Linked DNA regions of Homo sapiens. The protein of the gene in region 1 purifies or fractionates together with the protein of each later gene. This does not show direct contact. Each region holds a gene or a part of one and is shown on either strand. Other genes may lie near its edges. The genes, in order: FOXD4, PPP2R1B, PPP2R2D and PPP2R2A.

Region 1 (7,192 bases):
CCGTCCCCTGACGCCGAGTAACACTTAAACCTTTCTAGTTGCAAAGTCTTTTCAGAGTTTTTTTTTTAGGAAATAAGTTTTGAAAATTCTAGTGCTTAAAAAATGTGTATATATATATATATATATATATATATATATATATATATATATATATATATATATGTATATTTATAGCCTTTTATTTTCCCTGAGTACATGTTGGCCACTACATTCCAAATTGATCTCAAATGGTTTTCCAGCTTGTTGGGGGGTGAGGAAAAATAAATGGAGAATATATTTACATGCCCTCCTATTCATTCTTTTAGAAGTCTCATAAATAGTAAATTTCCTATTTTAAAAGCCAGGACATTTTCAACCTCAAATATTTGGAATTTTTAAAGGCCATATTAAAATGGATTACTTCTGCTATCTATAATAAATATGAATTGTGAAAATAAATTGAGGGAAAATAATGTAGGTTTTAAAAAGTTCCATTTAGAAAGGGAAGAATGAGACGTAATAGAAAATAAACGATGTAGTGTAGTGACTTAGCATTTTATTTCGTCTATATAACTAGGCTTAATTTTAACACCTTAATTTTAACATTAAAGATGGCACGTCAGACACACAGATAAGAAATCAATGTTCTGAAATTAATATCCTACTTACATTAAACATCCCTATCAGGAAGACACAGAGAGTAGAAGCATTTTGCACTAGACTTAGGAATAATACTTCCAGTTCCAAGGAAGTGAAGAAGGGGGAACATGTTTGGCATCGGAGGCTGTGTTTTTGTTTGCTTGCTTGTTTTTCTTTTAATGCCAGAACAAAATACCCCACTCACGTTCATAGTACCCCAGGACATGTGCAAATCGGGAAAGCCACAGAAGCCACAACCGAAGGCAAGAAAAGATGACTTGACGCCCTGCGAAGGTTACGTTCAGGTGGTTTTTAGAGGAACGTAATCCAGCTGTTTCTTTCTAACCATTTTGCAGGGAACAGAAGTTCGTGTTTGCTCTCCAGCGGGATTCAGATGCACACGCCCAGTATGGGCCGCGCAAGGTGGAGTGAGCAGCTGCGGGTCGCTCCCCACTCCCACCTGGCTCTAGGAGGGCCCTGCGGACTCGGCCAGGGAACTGGGCGTGGGCGATACTAAAAAAACTGGTGAGGTCCCCTCTCCGCCCAAAGGGGCGGCCAGCGATGTCAGCCCAGAGCCCTCTGCCACCGCCTGATACCGCAGCAGCGCCGACGCGGCCGACAGGTGCCCGCCCAGCACCGCGCCCTTGGTGGGAGCGCAGCCGTTGGCGCAGTCCTCCTCCTGATGCCGCTGCTGTTGCTGCAAAATTGTCCGACAGGCTTGACGGTCGCTGGAGCAGGGGGCAGTAGCTCCACGCGGTCGGGGACAAACTCTGCGCAGCCCCTGTACCCGCTCCCCTGACCCCTTGCATGATACTCTCAATGCTGAAAGAGATGCATCCGCCTCCCGGTGGCGACGCCAGACCCTTGCCCTCCTCCCAAGGCTGAGGACCAAGTGAGGGCTGCAGCACGGGAAGGGTGCCGGGGTCGCCAGGTCCGCGCCTTCTGCTTTCTTCGGTGCCCCGGCATAGGCGGGGGCCGAGAGCAGTAGGTAGCGAGGAGGATGCGGGTGCAGCAGAGCGTAAGGGCGTCTCCCGGGGCCGGTGTTGGGGTAGGCCCCCGGGACTGGCTGCGGCGGGGCAGGGGCCCCAAGCAGAGGGCCTGGGCGGGGGTTGTGCAGGGCGGCGTGTGCAGCAGGTAGAGGGAAGGGGTGGGGCAGGTGGGCTCCCGGGGTCGGTTGGTGGCGCTGGAAACGCTTCCTACGCCGGAGAAAGCTGCCATTGTCGAACATGTCCTGGGAGGCGGGGTCCAGGCTCCAGTAGTTGCCCTTGCCTGGGCGGCCCGGCTCGCGGGGGATCTTGACGAAGCAGTCGTTCAGCGAGAGGTTGTGGCGGATGCTGTTCTGCCAGGCGGGGAACTTGCGGCGGTAGTAGGGGAAGCGGTCACTAATGAAGGCGCAGATGCCGCTGAGCGTGAGGCGCTTGTGCGGGCTTTGCAGGATGGCCATGGTGATGAGCGCGATGTACGAGGAGGGGGGCTTTGCCGGCTGCCGGGCATCTTCAGAGGCCGCCGCAGACCTTGGCGGTGCCCTGAACTCGGTGCCAAACTCTGAGGGGTCGCTCGGGCCGCCGCCGCCCTCGATGTGCTCTCGGGGAAGCGCAACCCCGCCCCACCGGGCCACCTGCAGCCCCGGCTGGAGCGACTGCTCTAGGAACTGCTGGCTCGCCGCCTCCTCCTCGTCTTCATCTTCCTCCTCTCCCAGGACATCGATTTTACCGTCTTCCCCATCGGAGTCCCGGAGGCTGCGCTGCGGTGTGGAGCGAAGGCGCTCAGCTCTTGGCAAGTTCATGGCGGAGCAGGTGCTTCAGTCGCAGGGGATGTGGCGGCCGGATCACCTGGCCCCGGCGGGCTGAGCTGGAAGCCCGGGATGAATGTTGCAAGAAGCAGGAACGCTAGTGGTTACCCTTTGGGATGTTTTCCTCTGCTTGTTTCTACGCCTTTGCAACAACGTCCGGCAAAGATGCCTTCGCCTTTTATAAAAGCTTCTTCAAGACCATGTGTGGTGGACGCCTCCCTTTATAACCCTTCTTCCCCTACCTCGGAGCGGTGCCACTTCCTCCTAACGTAGTCCAGGGATGATGGTCTTCTGGGCAAACACCGTCCGGAGAAAAGCCCAGCGCCCTCCTCCTCGCACCCACCTGCCACCAAGGAAGATGCTCTACTCATCCGGTGCAGCCAGACAGTAGGCAAGCCTTTGCACGGGTTCTGTTAAGGCGCATTTAAACCCGCGCAAATAAAAGCGAGGTAGGAAAGTAGGATACTCAACATTCTACGACCACCTCGACATGCAGCCTTCCCGCCTGGAGAAAAGAAATGGTGGGGTAGGAGGCTGAAATGTACACGGTTGTTTGTAAAGGAATGTGTAACCGTGAAAGTATGTTTTTGTGTTTCACAGCTGGTAATCACCCATTTTCATTGGTAGAGTCTGTCCTTACCCAGAATGGTGAGCTGAATTATATTTAAGGTTCTGACAATATTCCCAGGCTTCAGGGGGGTGTTGCTTTGCTCCTTCTACCTTCCTTCCCACCTCCCCAAGATGCTCTCCCTGACTCAAATTTTCAGAAAAGGTTCAAATGTCCCAGCACTAAATTGTGTAAGTTTATTCAGGGAAGGCAGGAGAGCTCACACGGAGTCCTCTGTCCCCTTGTAGCAATGGTTCTCCAATTTCTTTGAATATTTAACCACAGAAATACATTTTATATCACAATCTTACACATACAGACATAATACATAACTAAGATGGCTTTCACGAAACAATATACTTACACTATAGTGATCACTGATATTTCCTTTTAAAAAAAAATGGCCATAACCAACTAAATTGATTTCACACATACCAGTATGGGCCCAGTTTGAAAAATCCTGTTCTTACAAAGTGGCCCCACATACAAGAAATGCACCCACTCTATAAGGGCTTCTCTCTCTCCCTTTCCTCCTTCCTTTCTTCATCCTTTATAACCAATTCATTTTTAGAGACAGGGTCTATGTTGCGCAGGCTGGCTTTGAATTCCTGGGCTCAAGTGATCCTCCCGCCTCAGCCTCCTGAGTAGGTGGGACTACAGGCGTGCCACTATGCCTGGCTCTGGCTCTTCATTCTTTTTTTCCTTTTTTTTTTTTTTTTTTTGAGGCGGAGTCTCGCTCTGTCGCCCAGGCTGGAGTGCAGTGGCGGGATCTCGGCTCCCTGCAAGCTCCGCCTCCCGGGTTCACGCCATTCTCCTGCCTCAGCCTCCCAAGTAGCTGGGACCACAGGCGCCCGCCACCGCACCCGGCTAATTTTTTGTATTTTTAGTAGAGACGGGGTTTCACCGTGTTAGCCAGGATGGTCTCGATGTCCTGACCTCATGATCCGCCCGCCTCAGCCTCCCAAAGTGCTGGGATTACCGGCGTGAGCCACCACGCCCGGCCTCTTCATTCTTTCAGAAATGTCAACATTAAGTGCTTTTACTGTAATAAAACTTGGGACTTCAATGAGGCAAGAAGGGGCTGCAGTGTTGCCTTTAAATCAGTGGGTCCTCATTCACTGTCTGCACTGGGGAGGGGCAATATGACAGCACAACTGTTCATCTCACTCGCTCCACATCCTTAGAAGTAACACGATTTTTAGATTGGCTTCATGAAAATTAGCTCAGAGACTAAAGTAGCACTACAGAGGAATAAAAAAAATATTTGTTATATAAATAAGGATCTTATTAAAATACTAAGTAAGATACTATGCCACGGTATATATTCATAATTTAAAACCCACCTACTTGGGAAAACTTTGAGGTGCCATCTAATAAAAATGCAGCATGAAAGAATATTATGCCCTTGATAGTCACATAGTGTCTATAATTATGACAATGAATGTTCAGTGAGAAATCAAACGCCAACTGCAAGGGCAAAATATAATAAAAAATAGCTTAAAGTAGCTAGTGCCTTCAGGATAAAATCTGGAAAAGGGCTTTCTTGCTGATCTTTTTTTGAAACTTTGCTGCTCCTGAAGTTTTTACCCTTTAAGGCTCCTCAGTTTATATGAAGCTTGGAGGACAAATAACAGACAGGTTTGAGCCTAACAGATTTGTTTGAATCCCAAATTTACCAATGACTGCTTGTGTGACCTACTAAACTAAGCTCCAGGAGGGCCAGGCCAGGTGTCTTATTCAACCACAAAATCCCAGCGCCCCCAGCATGTGAGGCAAATTTCCTCCATCAGCATAGGAATCGGATGACCTGGGAAAGGGAGTATTGTTAGTTTTCCTAGCGCCAGCTTCAATAGGGATTGGGGTTATTTAAAAATACAGGAGAAAAGTAAGGAGGCACTCAAAAACAAAACACAAAACCCACATTGATGGGGGTATGTCAAAGGTGGGAACAGGAGATAACGGAAAGAGTTCCCAATGGTCAAAGCTGGGATAATTTGAGCAACAAAATAAAGCAGTATTAAATTGTAACCCAAAGTATAAAATATTCATGTGTCCACACTGATAAACATAAATGATCGAACTAATAAAGCGAAAGGGACAACTGTCCTTTGCAGAAGAATTTCAATTAATCATGTAGACCACTCCCAAGAAAGTACACTACAACTCCCCATTCCTTTAGTGTGGGCTGTGCATAGTGATTTCCTTCCAAAGAGCACAGTATGAAATGGGGGAAAAGAGTAACTTTACAATGGAGAAACCTGACAAACACTCCTTCAGCCAGGTGATCAGGTCGTCAACATCAACATCAATAACAGTCATAACCTTTTATTTCATGTCATAAAATGGTGACACTTACTTGTGTTAAAAAAATTTAATAACAATGTAATCATTATATCTCTGCAATCAGCTGAAGTTCTAAGAAAAAATGACAATGTTGAAAGTTGTATCATCATTATTATAAACTTTCATGTTCAGTATATGTAAACTCCAAAGCCAATTTCAAAAGATATTTTTGTGAAATACCATTCTTTAAAAAAAAGGATATTATATATAACTGTATGAATGTTAAATGTTTTACAGTACTGATTTGCTACATTTTATGTATGCTGTAAAACAAATACCATTTTAAAGTATATTGGAATTCGTAACTAAAGTAATAAATAAATGCTTGAAATATACCCAGTAGAAACTTATTTTTATTATCCAATCCTTTTGATAAGAAATGCCTCTAGTGTTATGTACAAACTTGATCTTCTTGGAAACGTGTTGTCCACTGCTTTTCTGTTTCTGTCACAGTAGCTATAAACAGCTGTTTAAGGATATCCTTATCTAAATTTCTGCCTGCAAACAAAACAAAATATGACGTGATTACATTATGCTTATTAAAATGACACAGTTCACCTATCAATTCCAGTTCATTAAATGCTTTATGGTGTTTAGAAATTTACAAAAAGAATAGTAATTGAGTGATTCCATCTTTAACTTTCCAGGTCAGTACATCAAAGTCACATTGGTCCTTGGATTAACCACTTTTCTAAAACTGAAGAAGAACAAAAGTCCTAACAAGCTTTTACGAACGTTGTAACGTGATAAAGATGAAACATTGACCACAAGCTTATTTAGTTTTAAAAGAGGACCTGAATGGTTAATCTGTTTAAGTGGCACATGATATCCCTTTCAAATATATTTTTCACTTTGTTTTAAAACTGTGAATCCTTTGAGACTTACCAAGGAGGACCAATCGATTTGTTCTCTCAGTGTCATCCTTCCAGCTCACTGGAGTCTCCTCCAGATCATAGAGCTCATGGACACCCTGGACAATCACTTGTTGTGATTTGTCTTTGATTGACACCAATCCCTGCTCAAAGGAGAATTGACTGAACATTAATCAGCCTCAGTTCAAACTTAAAAGCAGAAATAGAGCATCAATGTTAATGGATTAATTACTGATATTCACTTAAAAAATACAAACTCTTAAGCTGAGAAAATTACTTAATTCCAATTATTTGTGAATTACAAGAAGTTTCTTAATGTTTTTAATTTTCAAAAAAGGTTTCTGTGTATTGATTTTCTTTTTGAACAATCCCCTTTTCTAATGATAAAGTTAATACATATATTAGGATGGTTTTTCAGTGTTATTTATCACAACCAAAACCTGAAACAAAATGATGAAATATGTATCATATCCTATTGATTAAAGATTTTATATAATGTTTCACAGTTTTCGTGGGAAAAGTTGAGAAGTTAAAGGAGTTTGGTTATATTAAATAATTTGTTTTAGAAATGGGTTGCAATCAATGAACAATGATGAAATAAAGAAAAACTATTATATTTATCTGAATATGAGCTCATTGTGTATTGATTTGCAGAAATGAGAAACGAATTATCTGATAAACTGGCTCCTATGGGGATGAAATTAATTTATTTGAAATAATATTCTTAATTTACCAAAAACTTTGTGCACACTTGTGAACACACAAGAGTAGACACTCAACTGACTGGTTAAGCATACACTTTAGAATCACTGCTTCCTAGAAGAAATACCTTTCATGACTTAAATACCCAAATATCAAGTAACGTGAGTGGGTTTCTAAATACAGAACAAGAATTCTTCTAGTCCTTTGTAACTTTGTTTAGAGTATGACAAATGTTTAGTGTCTGCTAAATGCATCAGG
Region 2 (7,026 bases), on another chromosome or scaffold:
CTCCTGGGTTCAAGCAATTCTCCTGCCTCAGCCTCCCAAGAAGCCTCCCAAGTAACAGGCACCCACCACCACACCCGGCTAAATTTTTTGTATAGTAGAGATGGGGTTTCACCATGTTGGTCAGGCTGGGCTCAAACTCCTGACCTCAGGTGATCCACCCACCTAGGCCTCCCAAAGTGCTGGGATTACAAGCGTGAGCCACTACGCCTGGCCTATTTTCCGGTTTTTGTAGTTTAACTTTACACTTACTTAACATCGTCCACAAGCCAGGTCATACATAAAGTCTTGAGAGAATTTTATAAAATGACTATCTGATATAAAAATATTTAGATATGAAGAGAAATTAAGGAGAATATATATACTAACAAGAAGTTAAAATTGTAAAGCAAAATGTTCATGACTGAGGCATGTCACCCCTGCCAGACAGGTGTAAGTCAGCCAAAGACACCATCTGCCTTGCTTTCACACTGCTCTCTATAGAGCTAGCAACCCTGGGAAACTTTCCAGGTCTAGAAGGAGCAGAGGTTAAAAGAAATGGTACTAAAATGCACCCTCCCTTCCAGATAGTTTTGGTCTTCAGCAAATCAGTTAATCACTGCTCCTCTCCACTCTGAAAAGTAGATCCATGACAATCACCAGTGAAGAGAAGATGACCCATAGCACTTGGGAGTGACAGACAAAAAGGATGACAAAATAACTTCACCTGATCCCATTTGCCATGCACTAATACCTCTGGTATACTTTTCAAAGAATCGGACACTTTCAATTTTATAAAACATATAATGCCACAGACATCCACAAATTGCATGTTCATAAACTAAATGTACTAAAATTAAAAATACAAATTCAGGGGTTCAAGACAAGAAAAAATAAATTCCATATGTTGTGACCTGAAAGGAATGGAAGTGGGAGTGAGGAAGGGGAAACAAACTGTAGCGATGTCAATAGTAAACTGACACATCTTTCTCAAAAAATACTCAACAATCAACAAATGTTGGCTATACACAGTGGCTCATGCCTATTATCAGCTACTCAGGAGGCCGAGGCAGGAGGATCATTTGAGGCCATGAGTTCAAGACCAGCCTGGGCAACAGCAAGACCCTGCCCCCAAAATAAAAAATGTTAAGTGCCTAATTAATGACGGGCACTATGGTAGGGACTGGAAATAAAATACAGTCCCTGCCCTAAAAGAGATCACCCATCTCTCCAACTAGACTGTAACAGACAATTACAATACTCTGTAATAAGTGCTACCAACAGAGATGAAGGTACATCAAACTTAGAACTGTCTAGGCCACCTACTCAAAAAAAGGAAAGGATGTGGCTATAAAACCCAGCTTTGAAATTTTAACTAACATGGTATTAGTTAGGGTAACACTGATCACGAAACTCAAACAGTAACAGATAATGTGATAATGTGGACTTTGACCAAAATACTAACATTACAAGCTTCAGTTTTTGTTTTTGTTTTGTTTTTTTTTTTTTGACACAAAGTTTTACTCTGTTGCCCAGGCTGCAGTGCAGTAGTGCAATCTTGGCTCACTGCAGCCTTCGCCTCCTGGGTTCAAGCGATTCTCCTGCCTCAGCCTCCCGAGTAGCTGGTATTACAGGTGTGCACCTCCGTGCCCAGCTAATTTTTGTATTTTTAGTAGAGATGGGGTTTCACCATGTTGGCCAGGCTGGTCTGGAACTCCTAGCCTCAAGTGATTCGCCTGCCTCTGGCTCCCAAAGTGCTGGGTTTACAGGTGTCAGCCACTGTGCCCGGCCTTTCAATACTTCTTTTCTATATGGTGATTCCTCAACTCCCTTTAATCAGAATGTAGGGCAAGTGGTACCTAGGGACATTTTGCTTAGAATACAAGGCAAACAGGGAAGTTTCCTTGAGCAAAAATCACAGCAGACTTACCCTAAAACCATAATCCCTTTTCTTCTCAGTTAAACATTTCTTAAGTCACAAAGGCATTAAATATTATAAAATTTACATTATATATACCAAGAAACTGATTATTCTATGGCTTTGTTTTTCGGTGGTGATGAGGTGAAATATGTTTCTGTAATACAGATTAAGCATCCCAAATCCAAAAATCCAAAATGTGAAATGCTCCAAAATCCAAAACTTTTTGAGCACTGATATGATGCTCAAAGGAAATGCTCATTGGAGCATTCTGGACTTTGCATTTTTGAATTTGGGCTGCTCAACCAGTAAATATTTATAATGCAAATATTCCAAAATCCACTTCTGGTCCCAAACATGCTGGTCCCAAGCGTATTTAGATGAGGGATACTCAACCTATACCTTTTTGTTAGAAATGTATGCACTAATAGGCCAGATGCAGTGGCTCACGCCTGGAATCCCAGCACTTTGGGAGGCTGAGGCGGGTGAATCACCTGAGGTCAGGAATTCAAGACCAGCCTGACCAACATGGTAAAACCCCATCTCTATTAAAAATACAAAATTAGCTGGGTGTGGTGGCATATTCCTGTAATCCCAGCTACTTGGGAGGCTGAGACAGGAGAATCGCTTAAACCCAGGAGGTGGAGGTTGCAGTGAGCCAAGATTGCATCATTGCACTCCAGCCTGGGCAACAACAGTGAAACTCCATCTTAAAAGAAAAGAAACGTATGCACTAACAAACATAAAAACCATCCTATAGGTAACAAGAACAAGGCCATACTTTCATGCATCTAAACAAACATAAGCATACAGGCTACTAGGCCTCCTACTTGCCATGGTAAATTGTCACTATCTGACACTACCCTGCAGTTCATGGAGCAACACATACTCACCAGCTGGCCTGCCAGCAGCGGCATATACTCAATGATGGCCAGGCGGACCCTCCATTTGGCATCTTCTGCCAGCTCCACTATGGCAGGAAGGAGAGACTGAGAGAGCTGACGGATTCCAATCACTTCATTTACACAATCCAAATTGGAGATGATATTCAAACGAACGTCAGGACACTGCAAGTACACAAGCCCCAAAAGACCACATTTAAAAATCAAGTACTCTGCCCAACAGTCTCCTGTCAGGGTAAGATAAAAGGTGAGGTAAGACTCAGGTGAAAAAAAAATGGATAATCTTGAAGAAATAATAGTGAATACATAAATAACTCAAGGAACATAAATGATCTTAATCAGAAATTTCAATTAAAAGTCCGTAATACTAAAGACTACAAGAAAAGTCCGTAAGATGGTAAAGAGCATAATCTCTGGAACTAAATCAGATGCACTCAAATTTCAGATCTGTCATTGTTGAAAGACCTTGCTCAAGTTACTTTAACCCTCTATGCCTCAGCTTTCTCATCTGTAAAATGGGATAATTGGCCGGGTGCGGTGGCTCACACCTGTAATCCCAGCACTTTGGGAGGCCGAGACGGGCAGATCACGAGGTCAGGAGATCGAGACCACAGTGAAACCCCGTCTCTACTAAAAATACAAAAAATTAGCTGGGTGCTGTGGCAGGCGCCTGTAGTCCCAGCTACTCAGGAGGCTGAGGCAAGAGAATGGCATCAACTCAGGAGGCGGAGCTTGCAGTGAGCAGAGATTGCGCCACTGCACTCCAGCCTGGGCGACAGAGCAAGACTCCGTCTCAAAAAACAAAACAAACAAACAAACAAACAAAAAGGGATAATAATAAGACCTACCTCACAGGATTGTTGTGAGAATTGCATGTAAAAATACATGCAAAGCACTAAGGCTCATGCTTGCCATGTAGTAATTACTCAGTAAATATTAGGTATCATTATAATTTTTGATACTATATTTAAACTTAAATAAATGAAACTTTTTAAACAAAGACACATTAGCTTTAAAGAAACCAGGGAGTATAAAGCAAAAATCAGGTAAAGATGATAAACAGATATTTCTAGGTTTACTCTAATGGGTACTTTTGCCCACTTTCTGAGGAACCTATAACCCCATACCCAAAATCACAGGTGTCATTGGTTTAAAATAAGTTATGATTTTTTTATCCATTTTCTTTTTGGGGGTTCTATTTTAATGAAACCCTAAACCAAAATCAAATAAAATCAAATTACTATCAAAGGCAACAGAACATAAAGCAAGACCCACCTCATCCTTTAACTGAGCTAAGAAAAGAGGTAGAAGATGTTCAATGGTATTTTCTTTGCCCAAAATAGTAGACAATCCCATAATTACAGAAGCTAGAGCCGATTTGACATGTTGATTGGTATCGGATACTAATTCCTAAAATAAAATCGAAATTAAAAGCCTTTATTACAAGACAACAGAAACTTCCATACCATTATTCTGGGAAACAGAGTCTTGCTCTGTTGCCCAGGCTGGAGTGCAGTGGCATGACCTTGGCTCACTGCAGCCTCACCCTCCCAGGCTCAAGCACTTCAGCCTCCAGAGTAGCTGGGTCTACAGACATGCACCACCAGGCCTGGCTAATTTTTTTCATTTTTTGCAGAGACAGGTTCTTACTACATTGCCAGGGCTGGTCTTGAACTCCTGGGTTCATGCAATCCTCTTACCTTGGCCTCTCAAAGCGCTGGGATTACAGGTGTGAGCCACCACGCCTGGCCTAATTTTTTTTTTTTTGAGACAGTGTCTCACCCTGTCACCTAGGCTGGAGTACAGTGGCATGATCATAGCTCACTGCCATCTCAACCTCCTGGGCTCAAGCAATCCTCCCACCTCAGACTCCCAAGTAGCTGGTACTACAGGTGCATGCCACCAGGCTCAACTAATTTTTGTATTTTTTGTAGCAATGGGGTCTCACTATGTTGCCCAGGCTGGTCTCAAACTCCTGGGCTCAAGAAATCCTCCCACCTCAGCGTCCCAAAGTGCTTGGATTACAGGCATGTACCACCATGCCTGACCCCAAGGAATTTAAAGACAGCACTATTTCAATACTGATTAGTTGATAATGTTTCCTCAGACTACTTGTTAGGTAACATAAACCTATGCACCAAAGAGCAGTTTACAATTACAATGGGCTAATAAGTGATGAATAACAATGTTGCACATTAACACATCTTCCCCATTCATTCCCTGTCAACCTTTAAACTCAAAGAGCTTTAAGGTAAACAAACAAACAAAAATAATGAGATTAAGGTTTACCTTCATATAAAAGAGAGTGAAACAAAATAAAGTCAGGTTTACCTTTATATAAGGCAGAATTTGATTCATAATTATGGTCTCTCTATCTTCAATGGGCAAGTTCTCACCAAGTTCTAAAAGATAAATAGAAAAAAAGAATGCTTTCACAGGGCCATTTACAAAGAGCCAAATGAGGACATTTAACCAGGTTTATCAATAATTTCAATTAAATTATATGTTTAAGCAAATAAGGAAAACAGCTCTTGTTCTAAATAAACTTTTTCGTGAACTCTCTATGCCATTGCATATCACACCAATCCAACCTGAAAGGCATTTTTTTTTTTACAAAAACAAGACAAAATGATTTCTTGGTTTTAAATATAAAGAGACTATCTTTAAGTGACAATGTAACATTTCCACACACTAAAAACATCCCTATGTATTTTAAAAACATATTCTAGAACAAAAAACATGCAAAATTGACTAACAAAAAAATGCACCAAAATGAATGACACATGTTCCAACATAAATTGAACTCCTTAACCTTTTACTTTGTGGGCAGCAGCTGCCCGGACTTCAGCTTCACAGTCTTTAAGTAGGTTCTGAAAGGCGGGGATGAGGTCATTTAGGGTGATTTTAGGACCCATGGCTTTCTGGAGCTATAAAAGAATTTGAACGGGTTTTAATGTATACTAACAAAAGAATTAACAAGAACAAAACAAAATTGTGCAATCTGTAAATACATATTTTTGCCACAGCACTTCCCATTGAAAAGAATTAATTCAGAAACTTTGGGTACAACAGCAAATCTATGTGTTTTCAGGTTTATTTCCTTAGTACTTAAAAATGATCACTTTACCTCTGAAAATCTGTCAGCCACCATATAGCGAACGCGCCAAGATTTATCTTCTGCTGCTTGTCGAAGTGTAGGCATCACCAAAGTCTCAAGGTCATCCTGAGACAATAACTGGGCAATACTGACACAAGCTTCCACAGCAAGGAGGCGCACTGAATCCTAAAGGAACAAAATTTCTGTAATTCAGACATTTACTGAGACCCATGGGGAACTGCTGTGGGGTGGTGCAGGTGTTTAAAAAAATTAACACCACCAAGACTGCCACACCTTATATAGTTTCACGTCTTGACATCTTTTTCTTTTTTTTTTTTTTTTTGAGGCAGGGTCTCACTCTGTCACCCAGATTGGAGTGCAGTGGCACAATCTCCGCTCATTCCAACATCCGCCTCCCAGGCTCAAGTGATTCTCCTGCCTCAGCCTCCCGAGTAGCTGGGATTACAGGCAGGAGCCACCACGCCCAGCTAATTTTTGTATTTTTAGTAGAGACAGAGTTTCACCACGTTGGCCAGCCTGGTTTCAAACTCCTGACCTCAAATGATCCACCTGCCTCGGCCTCCCAAAGTGCTGGGTGCTGGGATTACAAGCGCGAGCCACTGCGCCTGGCCGTGTATTTATATCTTGAAAGAGCTGCTCCCGGCCGGGCCCAGTGGCTCACGTCTGTAATACCAGCACTCTGGGAGGCTGAGGCAGGCGGATCACGAGGTCAGGAGAGGGAAACCATCCTAGCTAACACGGTGAAACCCCATCTCTACTAAAAATACAAAAAAAATTAGCCAGGCGTGGTGGCGGGTGCCTGTAGTCCCAGCTACTCGGGAGGCTGAGGCAGGCGAATGGCGTGAACCCAGCAGGCGGAGCTTGCAGTGAGCCGAGACTGCACCACTGCACTCCAGTCTGGGCGACAGAGTGACACTCTGTCTCAAAAAACAAAAAGGAAAAAAAAAAAAAGAAAGAGCTGCTCCCTTTGCCTGGAATGGCATGTCAAAGTCATAAAGATAGAAATGACTTTGTACTATGAGTAAACAGCAAAGTAATTACCTTGGCTAGAATGCAGAGTTTCTATAAAGGAAATGAAAATTTTAAAATTAAGTAAAAAAGAAAAAAAAAAC
Region 3 (7,026 bases), on another chromosome or scaffold:
AAGTCACTAAGACAGTGAACCCCCTGCACACCCGCAAGTCACTAAGACAGTGAACCCCCGCACACTCGCAAGTCACTGATAAGACAGGGACCCCCCCCGCAAGTCACTGCTAAGACAGTGAACCCCCCACACACACCCGCAAGTCACTGATAAGACAGGGACCCCCCCCGCAAGTCACTGCTAAGACAGTGAACCCCACACACACACCCGCAAGTCACTGCTAAGTGAACCCCCTGCACACCCGCAAGTCACTAAGACAGTGAACCCCCCGCACACCCGCAAGTCACTAAGACAGTGAACCCCGCACACCCGCAAGTCACTAAGACAGTGAACCCCCACACACCCGAAAGTCACTAAGTGAACCCCCCCGCACACCCGCAAGTCACTAAGACAGTGAACCCCCCGCACACCCGCAAGTCACTAAGACAGTGAACCCCCCGCACACCCGCAAGTCACTAGTGAACCCCCCGCACACCCGCAAGTCACTAAGACAGTGAACCACCCGCACACCCACAAGTCACTAAGACAGTGAACCCCCCCGCACACCAAGTCACTAAGACAGTGAACCCCCGCACACCCACAAGTCACTGCTAAGACAGTGAACCCCCGCACACCCGCAAGTCACTAAGACAGTGAACCCCCGCACACCCGCAAGTCACTAAGACAGTGAACCCCCCCCACACATGCAAATCACTAAGACAGTGAACCCCCCGCACACCCGCAAGTCACTAAGACAGTGAACCCCCGCACACCCGCAAGTCACTGCTAAGACAGGGACCCCCCAAGTCACTGCTAAGACAGTGAACCCCCCCGCACACCCGCAAGTCACTGCTAAGACAGTGAAACCCCCTGCACACCCGCAAGTCACTGCTAAGACAGTGAACCCCCCCGCACACCCGCAAGTCACTGCTAAGACAGCGAACCCCCCTGCACACCCGCAAGTCACTGTTAAGACAGGGACCCCCTGCAAGTCACTGGTAAGGTGGTGAACCCCCTGCACACCCGCAAGTCACTGCTAAGAGAGTGACCCCTCTGCACACCAGCAAGTCACTGCTAAGACAGGGACCCCCCTGCACTGTGTTGCCACTCTGGAAAGAAAGATGGTCTCCTATCCCATCCCCAGTTGGGGTCCTCACTTGCTAGAGTACATATGTGTCATCCCCACACACATTTATATTTTGTATACAGATTTTTTTTGTTTTTTTTTGAGACAGAGTCTCACTCTATCGCCCAGGCTGGAGTGCAGTGGCACAATCTCAGCTTACTGCAACCTCCACCTCCAAGGTTCAAGCGATTCTCCTGCCTCAGCCTCCTGAGTGGTGGGATTAAAGGCATGCACCACCATGTCCGGCTAATTTTTGTATTTCTAGTAGAGATGGGGTTTCACTATGTTGGTCAGGCTGCTCTCGAACTCCTGACCTCGTGATCCGCCCTCCTCAGCCTCCCAAAGTGCTGGGATTACAGGTGTGAGCCACTGCGCCTGGCCAATAGTTACAGATTCTTAAAACAAAACCGTCTTGTATGTCTTAAACATGTTGTATGTCATTGCACCGTACGCATTCCTCCTGAATTTTCTTTGTGGATTATCTTTGTGAGATCCACCTAGGTGATCCATGTAGTTCTAATAATTGATTCTCACTGCTTTTCAGTATATGTTATGATAGAGAACAACTTACCTGTCCATTCCTCTAATGATGCACCTGTGGGCTGTCTCCAGTTGTTTGCTATTTCAGGTATCTGAGCACGTTTTCTTGTCTGAACATGCAAGAAGCTCCCAACCCGACTGAATGTCACCAAGGAGGTCACAAGAAGGGTACTGGGTAAGACCACTGGTCTCCACCCTCTCCCCCAAACCATCATCATTCTGATGGGCATGAAAGGACGTCCCTCTGGCTTTACTTGCTGATCACTAAGAAGGATGAGCATTTCTATTTATTTTTCCATTTCTGCGAAACCCCATTCATGGTTTTTGCTCTTTTCTGAGTTGTTTGCCACCTTCTTGTTGACAACTAATTCTGCACCTATTCTGGATACTTAATCTCTGTTCGTTATCCTTTTGTGGATTTTGTTTTCACTTTTAATTTCAATATAAAGAAGTTTAAAATTTAATGTAGTTGAATTTCTTAATGTTTTCCTTGGGCTTTTGGGGCCTTCTTAAAGAAGCCCTTGTTTCCAGAGCTCACAAAGATGTCTTAGGCTTAGAAACACTCAGAGCTTATTTATTTATTGTGTGGGGCTGGTGAGGGCTCTAATTTTTCTCCCCCAAACACAGATAACTAAGGCCGTCCAGGTGGCAGAGCTTCAGAGTTTGCACTGCTCTTCCCTGCAGGCTGCGTTCCTCTGCCTATCTGTCTCAGCCCCTTTCTGCAGGGCCAGGCTCCCTTTACAGCTCGCTCTACTGAGTTTCCTGTTGTGATACATTGTTTCCCATTTGAAAATGCCTTTATCACAAGCAGATTCTTGAACGAGCATCTACTTCAAGGCTTGATTCTAAGCTGGCGGTGGAGAGTAAGGAGTCACACTTGCTGGATCTGTCACACGGCTTCTGGCTCCCACTGTGGCCGTGGCAAAGCCGAGTCTCAGTCTCGGTGTCCGCTCTCAGAGGTAATTTGCGTTTTTTCCTTGGGTGCATTTAAGATATTCTCTTTGCGTTTGGTGTCCTGCAATTTCATTATGAGATGGATGGATGCTGTGCTCCCGATCCTGTGTATTCAGGCTTTCATAATTTAGAGAAAATTGCTGGCCACTGTCACTTTAAGCCTCACACCCCCAAACTTTGTTTAAACGTGTGCTGTGCCTCACCCTGGCCTCCACGGTTCCTAGTGTCTCTTGTTTTCTGTTTGGCTCTTTAGCCCGCATTTCTTCTGGTTTTCCTTTCCATCCACTAATACAAGATCTGTTTAGCCAAAATGGACCTGCTGCTAAACCCACACAGTTTCATCTGTCATACTTGTCATTTCTAGATGTTCTCTGACTCCTTTCCAGTCTCCACGTCATGTTTGGCGGTCATGTATCATACTTGTCATTTCTAGATGTTCTCTGACTCCTTTCCAGTCTCCACGTCATGTTTGGCGGTCATGTATCATACTTGTCATTTCTAGATGTTCTCTGACTCCTTTCCAGTCTCCACGTCATGTTTGGCGGTCATGTATCATACTTGTCATTTCTAGATGTTCTCTGACTCCTTTCCAGTCTCCACGTCATGTTTGGCGGTCATGTATCATACTTGTCATTTCTAGATGTTCTCTGACTCCTTTCCAGTCTCCACGTCATGTTTGGCGGTCATGTATCATACTTGTCATTTCTAGATGTTCCCTCTGATTCCTTTCCAGTCTCCAGGTCACGTTTAGCGGTCATGTGGCTCCTGGTTCAGGCTGTTTCCTTCCTCTAGTCTGTGAATATCTCAAGCATTCTTAGTTTATCTTCTTTAACTTAGGATCTCAACAGCTGCCTTCTCGGAGGTTCAGTTCTGCTGTGGTTCTGCTGACTTGCTCACGGTGGCTTTTCCTGTATGTGCTTGGTAATTTTCACCTGTGAGCTCATGTTTAGATGATTTTAATGTGACGAAATCCAGAGAGACCTGGGTGTGCTGGCAGCAGCTACCCAGCATGCGTGTTCTCACGGAGTTTGCCAATGCCATTCTCTCCACCTGGGCCACTTCTCAGGGCTGTGCTTCCAGCAAGCGGCCTTGAGGAATGAGGTCATGTCTCTTCTAGTCAAAGTGCAGGTGTGTTTACTGCCCGCTGTGAAAGCAGTGGGGTTCTCCAAGCTCAGTGTGCATCAGCCACGGCCTCAAGTGTCCACCCGTGGGGAACCCAGGCCAACGAGAGGCTCATGCTGCCAGCTGTGCCATGAGAACCCGGGAACCTCATGTCTTCAGTCAACATCCGTGAGATGCTACAGGCTGGCAGGTCAGTCTGCAAACAGAGTAGAAGCCAGATCTGGAAACACGCCGGTCCCTCCCGATGCCCGCACACAGCCCTCGTGGAGGCAGGAGCTCCACAGTGTGAGATTTTACAGATCATGATGTAGCTGGCACAAACCCAAACTGCAAACCCTTGTGAGGGGAGGTTTTGCTTCCACTTCTCAGGGCAGTGCTGGCCACCCCCATGCAAGGCCTCAGACAGACAAACTGCCCTTTGGACCCTATCTGCCAGTGGAGGGAGACACCATCTTCAGGGGTCCCTGTTCCAACTCTACACCTCGTGTGGGCCAAGGCTTCAGCTCTTGAAAATTACCAAGCACATACAGGAAAAGCCACCATGAGCAAGTCACCTCGTGTGGGACAAGGCTTCAGCTTTGCACCATAACCTGCTGTTCACAGGGGCAGTGGTTCCTGCTATGGGCTGATGCTCCTGAGGCCAGCCGGGGCTGCAAGGCTGCTCTCGGAATAGACGCCTTCAGAGGCTGCCATTCTGGTTTCAGCTCCCTCTTAGTTTCTGGCCGTTGTGAGATTTCCCTTGCTTATCTGTGAGCTCAACTATGCACCTGAAGAGACACCTGCTGTATCATATCCAGCATTTCTAGGTGTTTATGCCAGAGGGTTTTGCAGAATATCCAGTCAATCACTTATTGCCAATAGACTCCTCTGTTCTCTTGAATTCTGAACAAAAATTCTATATAAAAATGGTGCAAGACAATCTTCCATCATCTGAAACGTAACTTTTTGCATAATAAAAAAAACGTAACTCTCAACCACACTAATCATAGCTATCTTTAAAGAATGTATACAAAATAAATTATCAAGGTACTAGAACCATCACATTATAAATTACATTGGTGTTTCAGACCAGCCATGACCACGCTGTGTCTGGGCATGACAGGCAGTGGCTCTGGGGTGTTTTCATCTACTTCTCTCCAGAAGGAAAGGCAGACTGCAACGCGGTCATTCCAGTGAGGTGAATCACTTCCCCACTTCCTTCCTTTTCACTCATTATCAGCATAATAAAAAGTAATACACTATCATTCACTAAGCATTTAACACATAGCCGGCCTGTACCTAGTGCTATACTTCTTGTCTAAATATAAATGGAATGACAAGCTAGGTGAGAAACTTGCTCAGAGATCCTATTTTCTCTACCTTGATACTATCATCCATCAATCAAAAGGTCTGGAAAACAACACCCTATGAGCGTCCTCCTCTGACGCTGGAGGACAGCTCGCCTCCCTCACTGACCTTGCACTCTCGGAAACCAGCAAGCTTGGGGCGACAGCTCATCTCCACGCAGGCCTTACCTATCCGAACCGTTCCAGCAACACTCAAACTTGTCAAAGATGCAGTCGTTCTCATAGAGAGAGCAGAGCTTGCTGCGCAGGTACTCGTGGACCTGGTGGGTCTCCACCGGCCTGCTCTCCATGTTGAGGTCCCACACCTTCACCGACAGGTAGTCTCTGGTCATCATGTACCGCCCACTATGACTGAATTTTACATCGGATATGGATGAAATTATTTCTGAGAAGAAGGACCTACTGCTGGGATCTTCAGGCTCTTCAAAAACTGAAAAACAAAATAAAATGTTTTCAGCTTCTGTTTAAAAATCAGAGAACAAATCATTTTCAAGTTCAAGTAGGAAGTGGCCCCTTCAGAGAGACTCTGGAAGGGCTTGGCCTCAACACTAGGTCTTCTGATCTTTCTGATTCTCTAGGTTTTCTGATCTTCTGTGACTTCCGTGGGCAAGAGCTTCGGATAAGACATTCTAGCACCAGCTATGGACAAGGGATGGGCATGAGAAGCGTAGACGCCCAAGTCTCACCCGGACCCTGAATGAGAATCTCTAGGCAAGGTCCTGGGCACTGCCATCTGTGGGAGCTCCTCGGGGCATCCTGATGTGTGCCCAGGTTCAGCACCACCGCATTCCTGTAGGAGTGTCTCCGCGTCCTCATGGCACCAGGCCCGAGCACGTGAAATTCTATCGCATACACATCACAGGAAGACACAAACAGCATTATATGGTCATGCAGACACAGCGGTCTGTGCCTCTAAGAAACTGCCTGCTTTTTGGAGGGTCGACAGTTTGTGGGTCTGCAGGAGTGACCACCTTGACTGGCAACGCTGTGGTCCTGATTTTAACCACCAAGACGGTCCCGCCGGTCAAAGCCAGCCAGCCAAGGTTTGTCTCCAATACTGAATATACACAAGCTCTACTGTGACAAAACTGGATTCCTATTTTCAGAAAGATCCTCCCGCCTCAACCTCCAGGGTAGCTGGGACCACAGGTGAGCACCACTGCACCTGGCTTGTGCTTCCTTGACCTGAAGCTGCTTTAGGTTTTTTCTCTTTTTTCTTGATGCAGGAGCCTGTGTTTGTCGGCTTAGCATCTGAAATTAACTTGAAGCCAGCTGTGCCGACGCCAAGCATTTACTCAAATAAATCACTCTGATGACAAATAGAACTGGAATCTGAAATTATTTACTCAAGAATTTTATGCTTAAGATACAGGCCAAATGCTACGAAACACTCATCCTCATCGCAGGAATTCTAGTAGAAATACGAATTCTTAAAAACACACTCAACCTCAGGAAAGAGAACAGGCGAAAAGGCTGCTGCACACGGTCCATGGGCACATTCCACCGAGGCACTGGGGGCGCCGCTGCACATGAGCAGCGGCTCAGTCTGGTGGGATTGACTGGCGGCTTCCCCATCAGAGGAAGTCACTGGACGTGTGTCTACCTGCTGGCACTGGAGGAAGGGTCAGCAATGTTTCAGGACACTGGGACACGCTGACTACAGTGCTCTATAAAGTCAAGCCCATTCTTTATGGCTAAAAATAAAAACAAAACCAGAACCTCCCTCACCTAAAAGGAGCTTGAAAGCTCACTGGATTAAAATGCTAGACTTTCAGCTAAGGGAAGTGGCTTCCAATCCAGCCAAGCTCAACATGAACAGGAGCTCATTCCAACAGCTGGGAATGGCCTCCTGTGTGCTGGCGGCCTCAGCCCAGGTCTCACGCACAGAGGCAGAGGCAACGGGTGGCTCTTGGCGGGACTCAGTGCTGGCAGCCTCTGAGGAGACACCCAGGCTCTGGG
Region 4 (7,026 bases), on another chromosome or scaffold:
AAAAAAATTTTTAAAAACTAGCCGGGCGTGGTGGCCTGTGCCTGTAGTCCCAGCTACTCAGGAGGCTGGGGCAGGAGGATCGCTTGAGCCTGGGAGGTTGAGGCTGCAGTGAGCCATGATCACGCCATTGCACTCCAGCCAGGATGACAGAGCAAGACCCCGTCTCAAAAAAAAAAAACAAAAAAAAGAAAAAGGAAAAAAAAAAGAATGGCATTAGCTGAAAATTCAACAAATCTCCAAATTATATTTAATTACTTCAAAATAAAAAGTATCTACTAGGCATTACAAATAAACCTTGTTATAAACAGGAGTTGCAGTTCAACATCAAACGCCTTCACCTGAACTAAAAGGAGATTAAGTTTTGAAATAAAATTATATTAGGAAAAGTGAAAGGTCTAAGGTAAGAATCCCAGCTTCACCACCTGCTCAAGATTATACAGTTAATTAACTTTCCCACCAGTATCTACTTATTTCACAGGGTATTTGTGAAGAACAGTAAATAAATAGATGTAAAGGACCTAAAACAATGCCTGATACATAGTTAAGCACTCAAAAAATGTAGGTACTCAAGATGGCCATGCCATGCCTTCCTTACAATGACTATATAGCAGTTTATTTATAGAAAATCTAATTTGCACCTAGGCTTTTTCTTTTCTTTTCTTTTTTGAGATGGAGTCTTGCTCTGTTGCCCAGGCTGGAGTGCAGTGGCACGATCTCGGCTCACTGCAACCTCCACCTCCCAGGTTCAAGCAATTCTTCTGCCTCAGCCTGAGTAGCTGGGACAACAGGCGCGCACCACCACACCCGGCTAATTTTTGTATTTTTAGTAGAGACAGTGTTTCACCATATTGGCCAGGCTGGTCTCAAACTCCTGACCTCGTGATCTGCCTGCCTCCGTCTCCCAAAGTGCTGGGATTACAGGCGTGAGCCACCGCGCCCCGCCAGCTTTTACTTTTCTTTCTGTCTGCTGAGGAAGCACCTTATGGATACTTGATTACTTAATTACAAATTCCATCATCACCTTAAAGGGCAACGAGATTACAGTTGAGGATATTAACTAAAATTTTTTAGCTATTTCCAATCCTTCAGTTTTCCTATTTAACAGCATTAAGAAACGTACCTTTCTTCCTACAATCAACTTTAAGATAAACTAGGCAAACACTTATATGCAAATACGTAACATACTGTAACCTCTTCACTGATTTAATACATTTTTGCTTCAACCTCTCATCATTCTGCTTATTCCACAATTTTCAAGAACTTGATTTTAATATTTTGTTCACTATTACAGAGTACTAAGAAACACCTAAGGCTAATTTTTGTTTTATTTTAATAACATGACAAAATGTCAGCAATATGTTTTCAATGGCCATTCTCTCTCATAATTTTTTGTCAAATGAATGTGAAAAAACTTAGTATTTTAAAACAAAGCAAGAAAACTATTTGATGCTAAACAGATACTATCATTCATGGTATTTAATGGGTAAACTTACACTACTACTTTAAGTGACTGTACTGAGTGAGGTCTACTAGACTTCAGTAGTAATGCTAGTGTTAAGAAAAAGAAGTGTCACATGTCATACAAGGTAAGGATATTAAATAAGACCTTTACCATAGGTCATTAGGTTTCGGAATACAGCTAATGTGCCACTATTTTTAAATCCACAAAACAACAGGGTTCTACTTTTTCTACTAACTTACCTTACTGCCTAAATCTAACATGCATACTACTCTAAGAAACACAGAAGACGGCCTGGGCAACACAGCAAGACCTTGTCTCTAACAAAAAAAAAAAAAAGAGATGCAGAAGAGAAATGATTTTAAATTGTTTACATTATAGCATTAAACATATGGAATGGACTAAAACCATTAAATTGTGTGAGATATCATAATATGGACTGTTTTTCAAATTTTTACTTATGTCCTTATTTGGGGCATATTTTAGCCTCTACCATTTAAAAAATATTTTTTCAAGACCCAGTCCACAAGGCTAAATCCTACCAAAAGTAAACAGAAAGCAAAGAGTTGAAAACACACAATGTACTTGGATCCAAGTTTCATAAAATAAGACTTTATAAGATAATATCCTAAAATAATTTCCTGTGAAAGTTTAAGACTATCAAATATGCAGATGAGGTTCATTATTAAATATTTAATAACATCTGATATTTTAAGATTACTAAACAATGAAAAATCTACATTAAAATAATTAAAATAACTATCTTGAATGGTTAAGTTGTTCCTTTTTTTTTTTTGAAACAGAGTCTTACTCTATTGTCCAGGCTGGAGACCAGTGGCACAATCACAGCCTAACTGTAGCAGACCTCTCAGGCTCAAGTCTCAGCCTCCTTAGTAGCTGGGACTACAGTTGCACACTGCCATGCCCTGCTAATATTTTTAATTTTTGTAGAGAAAAGGTCTCACTATGTTGTCCAGGCTGGTCTCAGACTCCTGGATTCAAGAGATCCTCTCGCCTGGCCTCCCAAAGTGCTGGGATTACAGGCGTGAGCCACTGCACCTGGCCTGTTCTATTATTTTGACCAATTATTACACACTTCAGATTATCCACATGTATTTGAATTTTTAATAATTTATTTCCACAAGTAAAATTTAAACACATTATCAAAATCATTAGAAAAAATTTCTTACTGTTCGACTTTAAGAAATGAACTTGGCTTTCTATTTTGTTAAATTCAGATTTTAAAAACAAGTATTACATTATTAAATAACAAAAGGATGGGAAAGGGTCCAGTGATGGAACCATACATGGGGCAACACTGGCCATTGACAACGCCGGGTGACAGGGGTTCATTATACTATTCCACATACTTTCTGTAATGTTCCAGATTGATTACGTTTTTTAAAAAACCAAATAGTCAAATTAACAAACAAGCAATTACTGTATTACCTTGAGGATGAAATAAACACTGCAGAGCACTACTGGTTCAGCAGAGAATGTGTGCGTGGTCATAACAATTTAAGCACTGACGTCCAATTTAATCATAGTGTGTGATGTAACATCGGGGCACAATGGGGACAGAAATGGGGGTGATAATGTGAATAGCTTAGTTATCATCTACTAGAGGAGCAAGTCAGCTGGAAATACTAAAATTGACAAGATATAGAAATACCATTTTATTCCCAAAAAGGAAATGAAGCACCAAGGAACCCAGCGGAAGAGTTGAACAACTGCTCTTAGGAGATGGACTAGGGATTAAGGAGTGGGGAGGTAGGGGACTGCCATTTTTCATCCTAAACCCTTTAATACATTATTAGATTTCCAAAAACTTCTTACTGTAAAATGTAACAGATAAAGAAAACCAAAAATTGAAACAAAAATGTCCAGGTTACTCTTTACAAACATCTGTACAACCACCATCCCAGTCAAGATAGCCCACAAGGGCCTCCCCAGCCCTTCCCGATCACAACTCCTTTCCAACAGCTTAAGGGTAGCCACTATACTGACTTTTATAGTACTTTTTACAGTATGTTTTTTTCCTTTTACTTCATAGCTTTTCTTCATAGTTTTACCAGCTGCATATGTGCCTCTAAACCTATAGCTTAATTTTGAATGTATTTTGTAATTTACTAGTGGAATCAAAGAGTATGTATAACACACATATATGCTATTTCCTTCACTTTGAGAAATTTTTAGTAGGCTTTAAAGACAAATCCTCAATATACTCATACTCCAAAGACTCTTCCTTCAAAGTAACAATAATATGAAGGTTCAAGTAATAATATCTAAATCCTCATAAGGCTCTTTTCTGCTGGGTACTGTTCTGTTTTATGTGTATAAACTCATTTAATCATCAAAACAACACTGTAAGACAGGTTTTATTGTTATCCTCATTTTATAGAGGGGAGCTAGGCACAAAGAGATGACCACAGAAATGATAAATGACTGAGCAAGATTCAAACCATGTAGCCTAGCACCTGAGTCTGTGCTCTTAACCTACTGTCTCATGACAGACAGTTTTCAATAAAAGAAAAATTAAAAATGTAAAATATATTACTAGCAATAATTTATTTTTTATTTAAGGCCTCTAGAGAGTACGGTATCTCAAACAATCTAGCTTACCAGTAGTATTAATTACCAGTAGTAATAATTTTGTGGCCGGTGGCTCACACCTGTAATCTCAGCACTTTGGGAGGCCGAGGCAGGTGGATCACTTGAGGTCAGGAGTTCAAAACAAGCCTGGCCAACATGGCAAAACCATCTCTAATAAAAATACAAAAATGAGCCGGACATGGCGGGGTGCACCTGTAGTCCCAGCTTCTCAAGAGGCTGAGGCAGGAGAATCACTTGAACCCGGGAGGCTGAGGATGCAGTGAGTCGAGATCGTGCCACTGCACTCCAGCCTAACAGAGTGAGACTCTGTCTCACACACACACACACACCAAAAGAATTTGGGCTGTTTTTACATGCCTTTGGAAATTAACAAGATTAAAGTACAAGGAAGAGCAGAAATCACCTAATCCACTCTTGTTATTCCATTGCTAAACACACAGGAACCCAGGAGAGTACTTATCCCCAGTGACATACACTAGTTTGTGCTGGAGCTAGGGTAAAAACCCAAGGTCTCCTGATTTCTTTGCATTATACGGTTGTATAACATCAATCTGGTTATAAAAAGCCTACCGATGATTCTGCAGAAAGCGTTTTAAATTTTTATTTTAAAAAGCCTACCAAGTAAATAAATCCATGACTGCTAGAACTACATCTCAATCATCCTGCCTTTTACCATTTCTCTTCCCCTTTCAAAACCTAAGAACAATAACATTTACGTTCCTTCATTCAAACAAATATTCAACTACTGTGTGCCAGGCACTGTTCTAGACAGAGCAGCTTCATGCCTGCATAAGGTACGAAGATAAATCAGTCCTACACTAAACTCTGTAGTATGTAACAGTAGAGATGTGGGGTACCATATGATATCTACGTAACAAAGTGCTATAAAGGAAGACTTTAAAAATAGGTTATTTCCAAAAGAGGAAATTAGCAAAAAGGTTAAAGGCGTGACTTGAGAGATGAGCAGGATCCTGGTAAGAGAACTGTGGGATGATTGTCAGGCATTCCAAGGTGGAAGCAGCAAAAACAAAGACCCTAAAGTGAGAGAGCATAGAACGCCTTTTAAGAACAGTATCTGTTTAGCTGGGTCATTAGCCATAGCAGCAAATAAACTGAGAGCAGAGGCCATATTGGGCAAAGGTCATACATTCTAGACTGAGATGTTTGAACTTAATTCCTAATCCAGTGGATACAGTGATCCACTTGTAGACTTATGAGGAAAATGACAAAACTGGGACTGCATTTAAGATTAACTTTGAAGCAAAACAGGACGAAGAAGCAGGGAATAATTTAGGAACTTACTGCAATCTGGATGAGGGAGAGTGCAAACCTGAATAGAGGTGAAAGCAGGTATGCAAAGAAGATTAAGGCATTACAGAGTAAAAATGGTATGCCCTGGCAGCTGACTGCATGTAGACGGGAGAAAGGCAGGCAATATGGAGACAATCAAAATGTATCATTAACAGAAAACAGGCAAGTAAAAGTTGAGCTACATGTAACCTGTTGAAGAGATCAGTCTAAAGGTAGGGGGGTGGGGAATGTGTTAATAACCTTATTTTACTTCAGAAAAGCAAATCTCCCCTTAGTCAAATAAGCAAGACTATAATATGCAAACTCTAGTATGCAGAAATATCCAAATTAAAGCAGTGTCATTTGAAAACTGGATTATTTTTATACTTAATACATTTGTACAGCAATACCTATTAGAACTAGTCATATTTTTACTAAGATATGTTATCTTACTAAAATGTATATACCAAGTATCAGCATTTTACGATGCTAAGAATATGCTTACGTTAAAATATTTAACAACCTCTAAAGAAAATTATTTAACCAATCAGTAGAAAAATGCAGCTACTAAGTATCAGCAAAGGGGAACTATAACTGATTTATCTCCTAACTTCACGTCAATAGGTTCTTGAAAACTTTGACTTTGTTTTCTGCTCAGCATCTTTTGTTATGGTATGGATAAAAAATGGTTTTGTTATAAGTTGCTTTCTTTGCTTAAAGTCACAGAACCTATTGACATTACATTATTGACAGAACCTATACATTAAGGGAGGACTTAATGTATATCACAAGTTATTTGGTTCAGGTAGGTAAATGATGTTCACTTTGAACTATCAATTTCTTCTGATTAAATAAAAGCCATGTGATCTTTCTGCGTAATGTTTAACAAGCAAACTATGAGCTCCTTGTGGGCAGAGTTTATGTTCCAGACACCAAGTACCCTCAGTGCTCAGCATTTAGGGGAACTTTCCTAAGGGAATAAATGGAATTCAACCAAAGAACATTTTCCAAGTATACAGCACTTTCATAACTTGGTGAGTATTACACAACTGCACAGAACTAATGATCCAATACTGGAGTGTTTACTATTCAACAGGTAATGTAGTTACAACATGAGTAATACACAACTCCTCCCTTGAAGTCAGGACTTACTTCTCTGAACAAGTCAAACACCACTGACTTCATCAGAAAACCTTGATTTACACTATGTGCATGACCATCAGTCAGTCTCTTTTGTTTCTGGTTTCTCATCTAAGAAACAGATGAGGATCCAATAGAAAAGGAACGTGAGAGAGCTCTGCAAAATATGACAAGTATAATCTACACCAGTTGGCTTGCCATAGGATTCACCACACTCTAAAACAGACAATTAAGGATGACACTGACACAAGCAAATAAGAGAGTTCGGCTACCACCCACCACCTGAAAAAAAATCTCCAGAACAAACAGTACCCTACAGACAGGTCAGAAATATGAGGACAACACAATCTAGGGAAAAAAGGTTTATGAATTTTCACCAAATTTTTAAAACTCACAAGTACATGTTTAAATTTATCTGAGTTTTGTTTGGAAAATTCCTACTGTAATTCAAGACACACAATACCATTAAAACTCAAACTTCAACATTTCTCAGGAATGAAACAATGCAACAACTTTGTGGAAAA

The links.
Region 2: the proteins of FOXD4 (region 1) and PPP2R1B purify together in Homo sapiens (co-immunoprecipitation; 3 studies listed by BioGRID and IntAct, with this or other methods). This does not show direct contact.
Region 3: the proteins of FOXD4 (region 1) and PPP2R2D purify together in Homo sapiens (co-immunoprecipitation; 3 studies listed by BioGRID and IntAct, with this or other methods). This does not show direct contact.
Region 4: the proteins of FOXD4 (region 1) and PPP2R2A purify together in Homo sapiens (co-immunoprecipitation; 3 studies listed by BioGRID and IntAct, with this or other methods). This does not show direct contact.

What each region holds. Positions count from the first base shown.
Region 1 is NC_000009.12:115,716-122,907, forward strand, and holds FOXD4 (forkhead box protein D4), read right to left. Parts: upstream 2,703-7,192; 5' UTR 2,405-2,702; coding exon 1,085-2,404; 3' UTR 516-1,084; downstream 1-515. Other genes in the region: ZNG1A (zinc-regulated GTPase metalloprotein activator 1A), read right to left, coding at 5,752-5,858, 6,246-6,375.
Region 2 is NC_000011.10:111,749,372-111,756,397, forward strand, and holds part of PPP2R1B (serine/threonine-protein phosphatase 2A 65 kDa regulatory subunit A beta isoform), read right to left. Parts: intron 6,080-7,026; coding exon 5,924-6,079; intron 5,724-5,923; coding exon 5,609-5,723; intron 5,199-5,608; coding exon 5,128-5,198; intron 4,207-5,127; coding exon 4,072-4,206; intron 2,962-4,071; coding exon 2,788-2,961; intron 1-2,787. UniProt on the Homo sapiens protein: The PR65 subunit of protein phosphatase 2A serves as a scaffolding molecule to coordinate the assembly of the catalytic subunit and a variable regulatory B subunit.
Region 3 is NC_000010.11:131,946,001-131,953,026, reverse strand, and holds part of PPP2R2D (serine/threonine-protein phosphatase 2A 55 kDa regulatory subunit B delta isoform), read right to left. Parts: intron 5,498-7,026; coding exon 5,236-5,497; intron 3,918-5,235; coding exon of another isoform or gene 3,881-3,917; exon of another isoform or gene 2,623-3,880; intron 1-2,622. UniProt on the Homo sapiens protein: Substrate-recognition subunit of protein phosphatase 2A (PP2A) that plays a key role in cell cycle by controlling mitosis entry and exit. Involved in chromosome clustering during late mitosis by mediating dephosphorylation of MKI67.
Region 4 is NC_000008.11:26,294,491-26,301,516, reverse strand, and holds part of PPP2R2A (serine/threonine-protein phosphatase 2A 55 kDa regulatory subunit B alpha isoform), read right to left. Parts: intron 1-7,026. UniProt on the Homo sapiens protein: Substrate-recognition subunit of protein phosphatase 2A (PP2A) that plays a key role in cell cycle by controlling mitosis entry and exit. Involved in chromosome clustering during late mitosis by mediating dephosphorylation of MKI67.